Linked DNA regions of Homo sapiens: region 1 is linked to region 2. The links come from fine-mapping of genetic effects on gene expression. A gene starts in region 2. The other region holds a variant in brackets. All regions are shown on one strand. Distances are between the middles of the regions. Region 1 has its middle 19 kb from the start of MFSD6L. Region 2 holds the start of CCDC42 (coiled-coil domain containing 42).

Region 1 (4,387 bases), 36 kb before region 2:
CTGATGCTTTCTCTGTCTCTATATTTTGTTTTTGCCTTTTAGTATGCCCTGTAATTTGTTTTCCCCAGACATAATGTACTGGGTAAAAGAAACTTCTGTTCATAAGCCTTTAGTAATGTGGTGGTAAGGTGTGGGGGAAGAAGAGCATTCTATAGTCCTATGAGTAGGCCTCAGTCTTTTAGTAAGCCTATGCCCCTAGACTGTGAACTTCAGACGTGCTTCTCAGTTGCTCCCCTCTCCCCTTAGGTAAACTAGGATGGTTAGAGTGAACTGGAATTAGGGTTTTCCTTCTCCCACATGGAAGGTTGGAGGAAATTAGAGTTGAGTATTTCCCTTCCTCCATGTGGAAGCTACAGCTGGTTGGAATTGGATATTTTCCTTCCCCTAAGTTAATTACGCTCTGATAAAAACCCAGCAGGTTAGACTGGTTAAATAGTTTCTCCTAGAGGAAGGCTTTGTTGAAAAGAATGGAATGCATTGGTATTTCCAAATAGCTTCTTTTCCCATCCCCAGGATGGAAGCATGAGGGAAATTTTCTCAAATTATTCACTGTGAGAACCTGGTAGAGCTCCAGGAGGTAAAATTCACCAGAGTGTAGGGACCCCCTTATGCCTGGGTACCCCTGGAATATTTATCTCTCAGACTTGTCCATGCCGAGCCTCCAGCAACTCATCAAGTACAATGCCGGTTTCTACTTGTGAGTTTCTGCTTCCGTATGTTTTGATTCTCTGTATTCACCTCTCTGTCTCTCCAATCTTGGGAGCACTGGTTTATCCTGTGACATCACTTGTCTCACAGATCTAAGAAGAGTTGTTGATTTTCCAGTTTTTTCAGCTTTTTACTTGTTAGGACAGAGTGGTTACTTCCAAGTTTCTTAACATGCCAGACCACAAACTAAAAGTTCTGCATTTTCAAAAGTGTTAACCTCTGAGGGTTTTCTAGTTGTGATCGTGACCTTTGGTTCCAACTCAATTTTAACCAAAGTCAAATCAAAGTGTTTGAAGCTTAAAACTCATATTTCCACAATATCCTTTGCCCAGTTTTTGTTCTGTTTCTTGTCTTTTTTCATGTGGTTTTGCAGAAGTGTGTTGTATAATCTAGATATTAATCCTTTGCTGATTTTCATTTCGGAAATATCTTTGCCCAGTCTGTCACTCATTTGTTAACTTTGGTATATTTTTTTGAACAGAAAATCTTATTTTGATGTAATCAAAGTTTTTTATTTTCCCATTACAATTTATCTTGAGGATCTTAAGAATCTCTCTTGCTACAAGGATTCTAGGGAGAAAAATAAAATAAAATAAGAATCTCTCTTGCTACCCCCCCCACTTCCAAGTTAAAAAGATACTACATTTTCCATATTAGCTTTTAATTTTAAACTCTCATTTTAGGTCTTTAATTCATTTGGAATTTCTTTTGAATAGACTTAAGATAGGGACCCACCTTTATATTTCTCCACTTAGCCAGTTTTCAAAATGCTATAGACTAAATAATCCACTCTTCCTCTATGATTTCTGGCACTACATCTTTATACTTAAGTCTGCTTTTGAGTTCTCTAGTTTTATTAATCTATTTGTCCCTGCACTAATATCACACTAATATCACAGTTAGCACTTGGCTTTGTAATGTCTCAATATTTGGTAAGGTGAGTCTTTCCTCTTTACTCTTCTTTTTTAGGCTTTATTCTCCCTTATAAATTTTACAGTAAGTGTTTCACTTTCCCCCAAAAAAATTCTGGAAATTTTATTGGAACTGCATTGAATTCGTACATTAATTTGGAGGGATTTGGCATCCTTACATTGTTAAGCCATTTATCTATGAATATAGTATGTATTTCTATTTATTATTATTATTATTATTATTATTTTCTTTTTTGAGACGGAGTCTCGCTCTGTCACCCAGGCTGGAGTGCAGTGGCGCCATCTTGGCTCACTGCAAGCTCCACCTCCCGGGTTCAAGCCATTCTCCTGCCTCAGCCTCTAGAGTAGCTGGGACTACAGGCACCTGCCACCACGCCCGGCTAATTTTTTGTATTTGTAGTAGAGATGGGGTTTCACCATGTTAGTCAGGATGGTCTCAATCTCCTGACCTTGTGATCCACCCGCCTTGGCCTCCCAAAGTGCTGGGATTACAGGCGTGAGCCACTGCGCCCGGCCTCAAAACTTCTTTATGTCCTTTAATAGTTTTAAATTTTGCTCCACAAAGATCTTATGTAGTTTCATTATATAAGGTCGTAAGTACTTGACAGTTTTTTATGCTATTGTAAAAGATCATTTTGTATATTTTTATATTTTCTAATTGGTCATTGACAGTGCAAACAAACCCTATCAGTTTCTGTATGCTGGGCATCATCTCCAGCCATCTTGCTGAACTCTGTTTTTAGTTCTGACTCTCTATCTCTTAATTCTGTTGTGCTTACTATGTAAATAAACATTTCATCTGCAAATAATCAATTTTGCCTTTACCCTGCTAGCACTTGACCCTCTTGTTGTTATTGGTGGTGGCAGTGGTGGTGGTTTTCATGGTCTTGGTGTGTTAGCAAGGAATTCCAATGCCATGTTGAATAGTAGTGGTAGAGTAACCATTTTTGTGTTCTCAACCTTAAAAAGAATCTGTCTAAAGTCTTTGTCTGTTTGT[TTGTG/G]TATTTGATTTTTAGAGACAGGGTCTCACTCTGTTGCCTAGGCAGGAGTGCAATGACATGATCATAGCTCATGGCGTCTTGAACTCCCAAGCTCAAGTGATCCTCCCACCCGAGTCTTCCAAGTAGCTGGAACTATAGGTGCCACCATGACCAGCTAATGTTTTTATTGTTTAATTTTTGTAGAAATTCCTGGCATCAAGCAATCCTCCTGCCTCAGCCTCCCAAAGTGCTCGGATTAAAAGCACCATGCCAGGCTACATCTAAAGCTTCAGTATGATGTTTGCTGAAGGCTTTATTAAATTAAAGAAGTTCCTTTTTATTCCTGGTTTTTCATAACACTCATCATAAACTTTATTAAGCATTTACTGGATCTATTAAGATCATGTGGTTTTCTTCCTTCTCTAGTTTATTCCTGTGGTGATTGTATATTAATATACTTTCTGATTTTTTTTTTTTTTTTGAGACAGAGTTTTGCTCTTGTTGCCCAGGCTGGAGTACAATGGCACGATCTCGGCTCACTGCAACCTCTGCCTCCCAGGTTCAAGCAATTCTCCTGCCTCAGCCTCTCAAGTAGCTGGGATTACAGGCGCGCACCACCATGCCCGGCTAATTTTTTGCATTTTTAGTAGAAATGAGGATTCACCATGTTAGCCAGGCTGGTCTCAAACTCCTGACCCCAGGTGATCCACCCGCCTCAGCCTCCCAAAGTGCTGGGATTACAGGCGTGAGCCACCATGCCTGGCCTACTTTCTGATTTTTAAGTAAACATGAATTATTAGCTAACTCTAACTTGATCCTCATAAATTAGGATTTAAAAAATACACCGTTGGATTGGGGTAGCCAATATTTTATTTAAAATTTTTTGCATTAATATTCACTCTGTTTTCTTTTCTTTCACTTTCCTTAACCTGTTTTCTCATTATGATTATACTAGCCTCATAAAATAAATCAAGCAGCTTTCCCTCCTTTTTCTATTTTCTATTTTATGGAACAACTTGTATAACATAAGGCTTCTCTGTTCAACATATGGTAAAACTTGGTGCCTGGAGTTCAGTAGAGCCACTTTTCTTGTATTCAAGAAAACTTTATATACAAATGTTTATGTAATTTTCTATTTCTTCGTATGACATTTTACATTTTCTGGAAATTTATCCTTTTCTACCCAAGTTTTCAAATGTATTAGTGTATAGTTCTTGAGACTGTTGCTTGCCTACCTAATATCCATTTCCCCTCTTCTTTACCCACATTATGTCCCTGGCAGCAATTGTGTTCAAGTAAAATGTTCACCTTACCAGACTCTGCACCTTAAAATGTTCACCTTATCAGAAATTCTGCGAAGGATGTCTGGTAAAGATTTCTGCTTTCCAGATGTAGCCTCTACCTCCTCCTCTTCCCTTTCCTTAGAGGAGAAACAGCCATCTTGCAACCATGAGGTGAAAAGCATGAGCAAGAAAGTGCTATACTCAGTTGAACACAGTCCTTTTTGCTTAGTTACTCTTATCAGAGGTTTGTGTTTACTGTTCTCCCCCCAACCCCCCAGAAAAAAGGCTAGTTTTGGTTTAGCTAATTTCATCCATTGTCTTTGCTCTCTCTTTTTATTTCTTCCATGATCCTTATTAGTTCCTTCATTCTCATTTCTGTGGGTTCACTCCATTGCTCTTTTTTTTAACTTCTTGAGTTACACACTTACCTTTTTGTTCTGAGTATTTTTTATTTTCTAATAAGCATAGTCATAAATTTTAAATT
Region 2 (4,387 bases):
ACATGCTGTTTTAACACTTTCACCTTAGAACACATTTTGGTGTCTGGCAGTGGACATTCCCTCTCATTCTTCTTTTGTGATAGTTCCTTAAGTACTCAGTTCTCTAGATGAACTTTTACATTGTTTTGTCAACATCTATGGGGAAAAAAACTCTCTGAAATTTTGATTGCAATCGCATTAAATTCCTAAATTCATTTGGATGGAATTTACAGCTTTACCATACTGAACCATCATTTAGACATTTTGTAAGTCTATTCAGTTATTTTATATCCTCAGGAGAGGGGAGGGGAGGGAAGGGAAGGGAAGGGAAGGGAAGGGAAGGGAAGGGAAGGGAAAAGATGGGGATAGGACAGACCTCTGTAAATCCGAGACAGCCCTGCGTCTTGCTCAGGGTCCCTGGGAGGGCAGTGAGACTCCAGAGAGGGATGGTGGTGTGCAAGGATCACGAAAACTCCCATGATAGGTACCAAACCAAGCAGCAGAAAGAGCTTCCAGATACGAGGAGACCCTTGGGCAGGAGCAGAGGATGTCTTACACCTACCTCTATGGACCAACCTGGCCCTGGACCACCTGATTTCACGGACAATCAAGGATATGTCTCATATACGTGGCGGGGAGGGTGATTCCAGAAACAGATGGCTTCCTCCTCAAGGGCTGGCGTTGCACAGCTCCTAGGCACGACCTTAAAGAAAGGGAGGGGAAGCCCAGATTGACTGTGCCAGCCTCTGTGGATAAACAAGGAAACATGCCCCTCCGAGGAGCTTGAATCGTTCTTGGCGGTCTTATTGTCGCCCTGCTGGGCGTGTTCCTCCGGGGCTCCGGTGGAGAACCACCTCTTGTTTAGGGTTGGGGTGGCCATTGTGTGGGTGTGTTCTGCGTGGGGTAGGGACTGTCTTGCTTTCTCTGCTGAGCCCACCGGACTAGGTGGAAGCGACAGGTGTGTGTGATGGTCCGCTCTGGAGGGGAGGCTCCGGCGGAGCGTGGGAGGGGAGCAGGGCTGGGGTGGGCCGGGATGGAGGGCGCGGCAGACGGCCAGCAGGGGGCGCCAGACGACCGGCAATGCGGCGGGGCGGACTGGCCGCGCTCGGGACACGCCCCCGCCCGAGACCCCTAGCCCACCACAACCCACGCACCCCACCCCGCTCCCCCTCCCAGACAGAGAGAAGCGGAACGGGCGGTGTGGCGGGCGTGGCGGCAGTAGCGGGCGTGGGAGGGAGGGAGGCAGAGAGAAGAGGGAGCCTGCGCCTGGCGGGAGCGAGCTCAAGGTCCCGGCCAGAGTCCAGCCGGAGACCCCAGGGCGCCCTCCGCACACCCGCCGTCCCACGCGAAGACGTCCGACCTCCAGCCAGATGAGTTAATGCACGCAGCCTGACGGGATCAAGGAAGGCGGCCACCACGGAGTCAACATTTTAAATAGGGTCATTTCCGTTACCGTGTTTTGACATTTCTTCCCGTTTTAAGTTTATGCAAACAAAAACGCGCAGGGCCGGGCGCGGTGGCTCATGCCTGTAATCCCGGCACTTTGGGAGGCGGAGGCGGGTGGATCACCTGAGGTCAGGAGTTCGAGACCAGCCTAGCCAACATGGAGAAACCCCATCTCTACCAAAAGTACAAAAATTAGCCGGGTGTTGTGGCAGGCGCTTGTAGTCCCAGCTACTCGAGAGGCTGAGGCAAGAGAATCGCTTGAACCCGGGAGGCAGAGGTTGCAGTGAGCTGAGATCCCGCCATTGCACTCCAGCCTGGGCGACAGAGCGAGACTCCGTCTCAAAAAAAAACCAAAACCAAAACCAAAACCAAAACAAAACAAAAAACTGGCGCAGGCCCCGAGTCTCTTCTTCTGAGGGGCCTGGCCTGGGCCCTCCTCCTGTGCCTGTCCCCGCGCACCCCCCGCCCGTCCCCCCTTCCCCACCCGGCCCCACCGCGTGCTGGGCCCGCCGCCTGGTTTCTAACCTCGCGCCTCCTCGCGACTCCACCCCTGCCGCCGCTAAGCACCTCCTTTCTTTCTCTGCTCTTCTTCACCAAGGCCCGGCCCCTCCCTCACCCTCACCCACACCTGAACCCCAGGGAGGCCCTAAGAGCAGGGCGCCCGCACAAGGCCGCTCCTCCACCCGATGCCCCTTCTCAGCCACACTCACCAGAAACTGCCTCTGGCCCTGGGCTCCATGGCAACCAGCATCTAACCAGGCCTAATGCCTTCCCAGAAGTTCCTGAGGGCAAAGGGCAGGAGCAGAGAGCAGGACCCCAGCAAGGGGAGGACCAATGGGGGCAGGGGGCAGGGGGCAGAGGGCAGCGCCTGGACTCCACGTGCCGGCCACAGAACCAGGCAGCCTGTTGCTAGGTAACCACATCTCCCATAACTGCCCCAGCACATCGTCCTGAGCCGCCCAACCTGTCTCCAGCCACCTTCTGTGGAGTCTCAAACTCCATCATCTGTGGGACCCTGTAGGCCGAAGGGAGAAACAAGAGTGCAGCCACCACCCCTGAGCCACCTGTGGCTCTGCTACCCACAATTTCACTGTGAAGAGTCAGCTGCCTGGGCCGTGAGGTCACTGCCACCATGAGTCTGGGCATCATGGAAGAGGAAGACCTGGCCGAGTACTTCCGGCTGCAGTATGGGGAGCGGCTGCTGCAGATGCTCCAGTGAGTGTCTGAGGCCTGGCTTGCCCACCCCTCTGTGCCTGGGACCACTCACACCCACCCCATACCTCATCTTCCAACCGTCTGTCCCCTCCTCTCCTGTAACCCAGTGCCCCAAATAACCTTGGCACCAGTCCACCTCATCACGCTGGTCTCCACCCCGTCACCCTCCCCCTGCTCACTCCTGCATGGCCCTCTATGCTTCTCAACACAACAGCCCTTTCCCTCGGAAAGGGAGAGAGGCCCCTCTGCTTCCCCATGGGTATCTGTCTCCACGGGTTACTCCCAGCCCCAGCCTACCCCATGTCAGAACACACAGCCCTCTCGCGTTCACATCTTGGACAGGAAACTCCCCAATGTTGAGGGGGCGTCGGAGTCCCCATCCATCTGGCTACTGGAGAAGAAAAAGGAGACAGAAATCATGCATCAAACTATGGTGCAGAAGAAGAAGGTGGGGACTCAGGGATGGAGTGCAGAGGGGCAGGAAAGGAAGGGGGTGGGCTGGGGCTCTGGGAGAGCCTGTGGACAGCCCTCCATTGTCTGAGTGGGGTGGCTAGAGCCAGGAGTCCTCTATGGTGATCTGGTCTCTTTGGGGAGAACAGAAAGGATCTGGGTCTTGGGGGTACCACTGTCCAGGGATGCTCTGCTCTGGGCCAGGCATGGGGTAGAAAGTGGGAGGCTCCTATGGACCCTCTTGGGCCTGGGGATGGAGCCTCTGGGGCAGGGATGCTGGGGTCTTCCTTGGTACTCATGTCAGGAGCCCTCCTGACCTCTCTGCTCTCCCACCCCCACCCCAAAGATGTTTCAGCGCAGAATGGAAACCCTGAACCTGCGCTGGGAGGAACTGGGCGTTAAGGAAGCCCAACTGAAGGCTCACATCCAGAAGTCTGAGCAGTTCATCCAGGTTTGAAGGGGTGTGGGCGGCCGCAGTGGCCAGGGGATCCATAGTCCGCAGGTGGGCAAACTGCACTCCTCCTCCTTGCTTCTGCTGACTCCTCGCCCTGAGTTAAAAAGCATCCTTAGTGCTCCAACATTGCCTGGCATGTCCCTAGGCGTCCTTTATGTCCCCCACCTGTCTCTGTTTGTAATTTTCCATTTACCTATCAGTCTCTGCTCCCTCTAGATGGCTGTTTCCTATTTCTTTTCCAGTACCTAGGACATACAGTTTATTCAGTAAATGAATGCATGGATGAATGAATGAAGGTGCTACAGTTAGGACTAAACACTTGGGAAATACAGTGATGAATGAGACAGAGTTTTAGTCCCTCCACCCACCCCACCCCTCCATCCTTGTCCTTGCACTGAAGGTCCAGGCAGGGGATGGTTGAAGGACCAGGCACCAGAGTCCATTCCAAGACATCCTCTCTCACTTCAGTCTTTAGTGGAGCACTTTAATCGTCTTAAAAATCCAGATTTATCCAGACCCACTCCAGGTAGCACTTACGCAGCCCTGAAGGGCCTGGTCCAGCTCCGGGAGTGGGTAATGATTGCCGTCGGCCACAAAGAAGCCCCGCTCTTAAGCACCTTCCTTCCTGCTCTGTGCCTAAGCCGTGTGGGACAGGAAGTCCTTGGACTGGGCACATTCTCCAGAGGTCCAGTTCTTCTTAGCAGCCAGAGAAACACTTATGGAGTGGTTGGGGCAGAAGAGATTTGGGCGTGAGGCATTCTCCAAATGGCTCTCAGAGGGTCAGTAGCTTCAATTCCCAGAGAGTTTGCTACAAATACAGACCCCAGGGGCTTCCCTTGTTGC

The links.
Region 1: its variant is fine-mapped to the expression of CCDC42 in whole blood (INTERVAL, PIP above 0.99).

The regions. Positions count from the first base shown.
Region 1 is chr17:8,778,426-8,782,812 of GRCh38, reverse strand. No RefSeq gene overlaps it. Among named protein-coding and RNA genes, the nearest start is that of MFSD6L, 19 kb to the left of the region's middle. The variant TTGTG/G (reference allele first, on the strand shown) is at 2,638.
Region 2 is chr17:8,742,780-8,747,166 of GRCh38, reverse strand. CCDC42 (coiled-coil domain containing 42) reads left to right here and starts at 2,331. Exons shown (of 7, transcript NM_144681.3): 1 at 2,331-2,640; 2 at 2,983-3,088; 3 at 3,437-3,541. The coding sequence starts at 2,558. LOC105371529 (a long non-coding RNA gene) reads right to left here and starts at 2,241. Exons shown (of 3, transcript XR_934217.4): 1 at 2,136-2,241; 2 at 542-682. RefSeq lists a silencer at 1,019-1,288 and enhancers at 1,509-1,618, 1,679-1,898.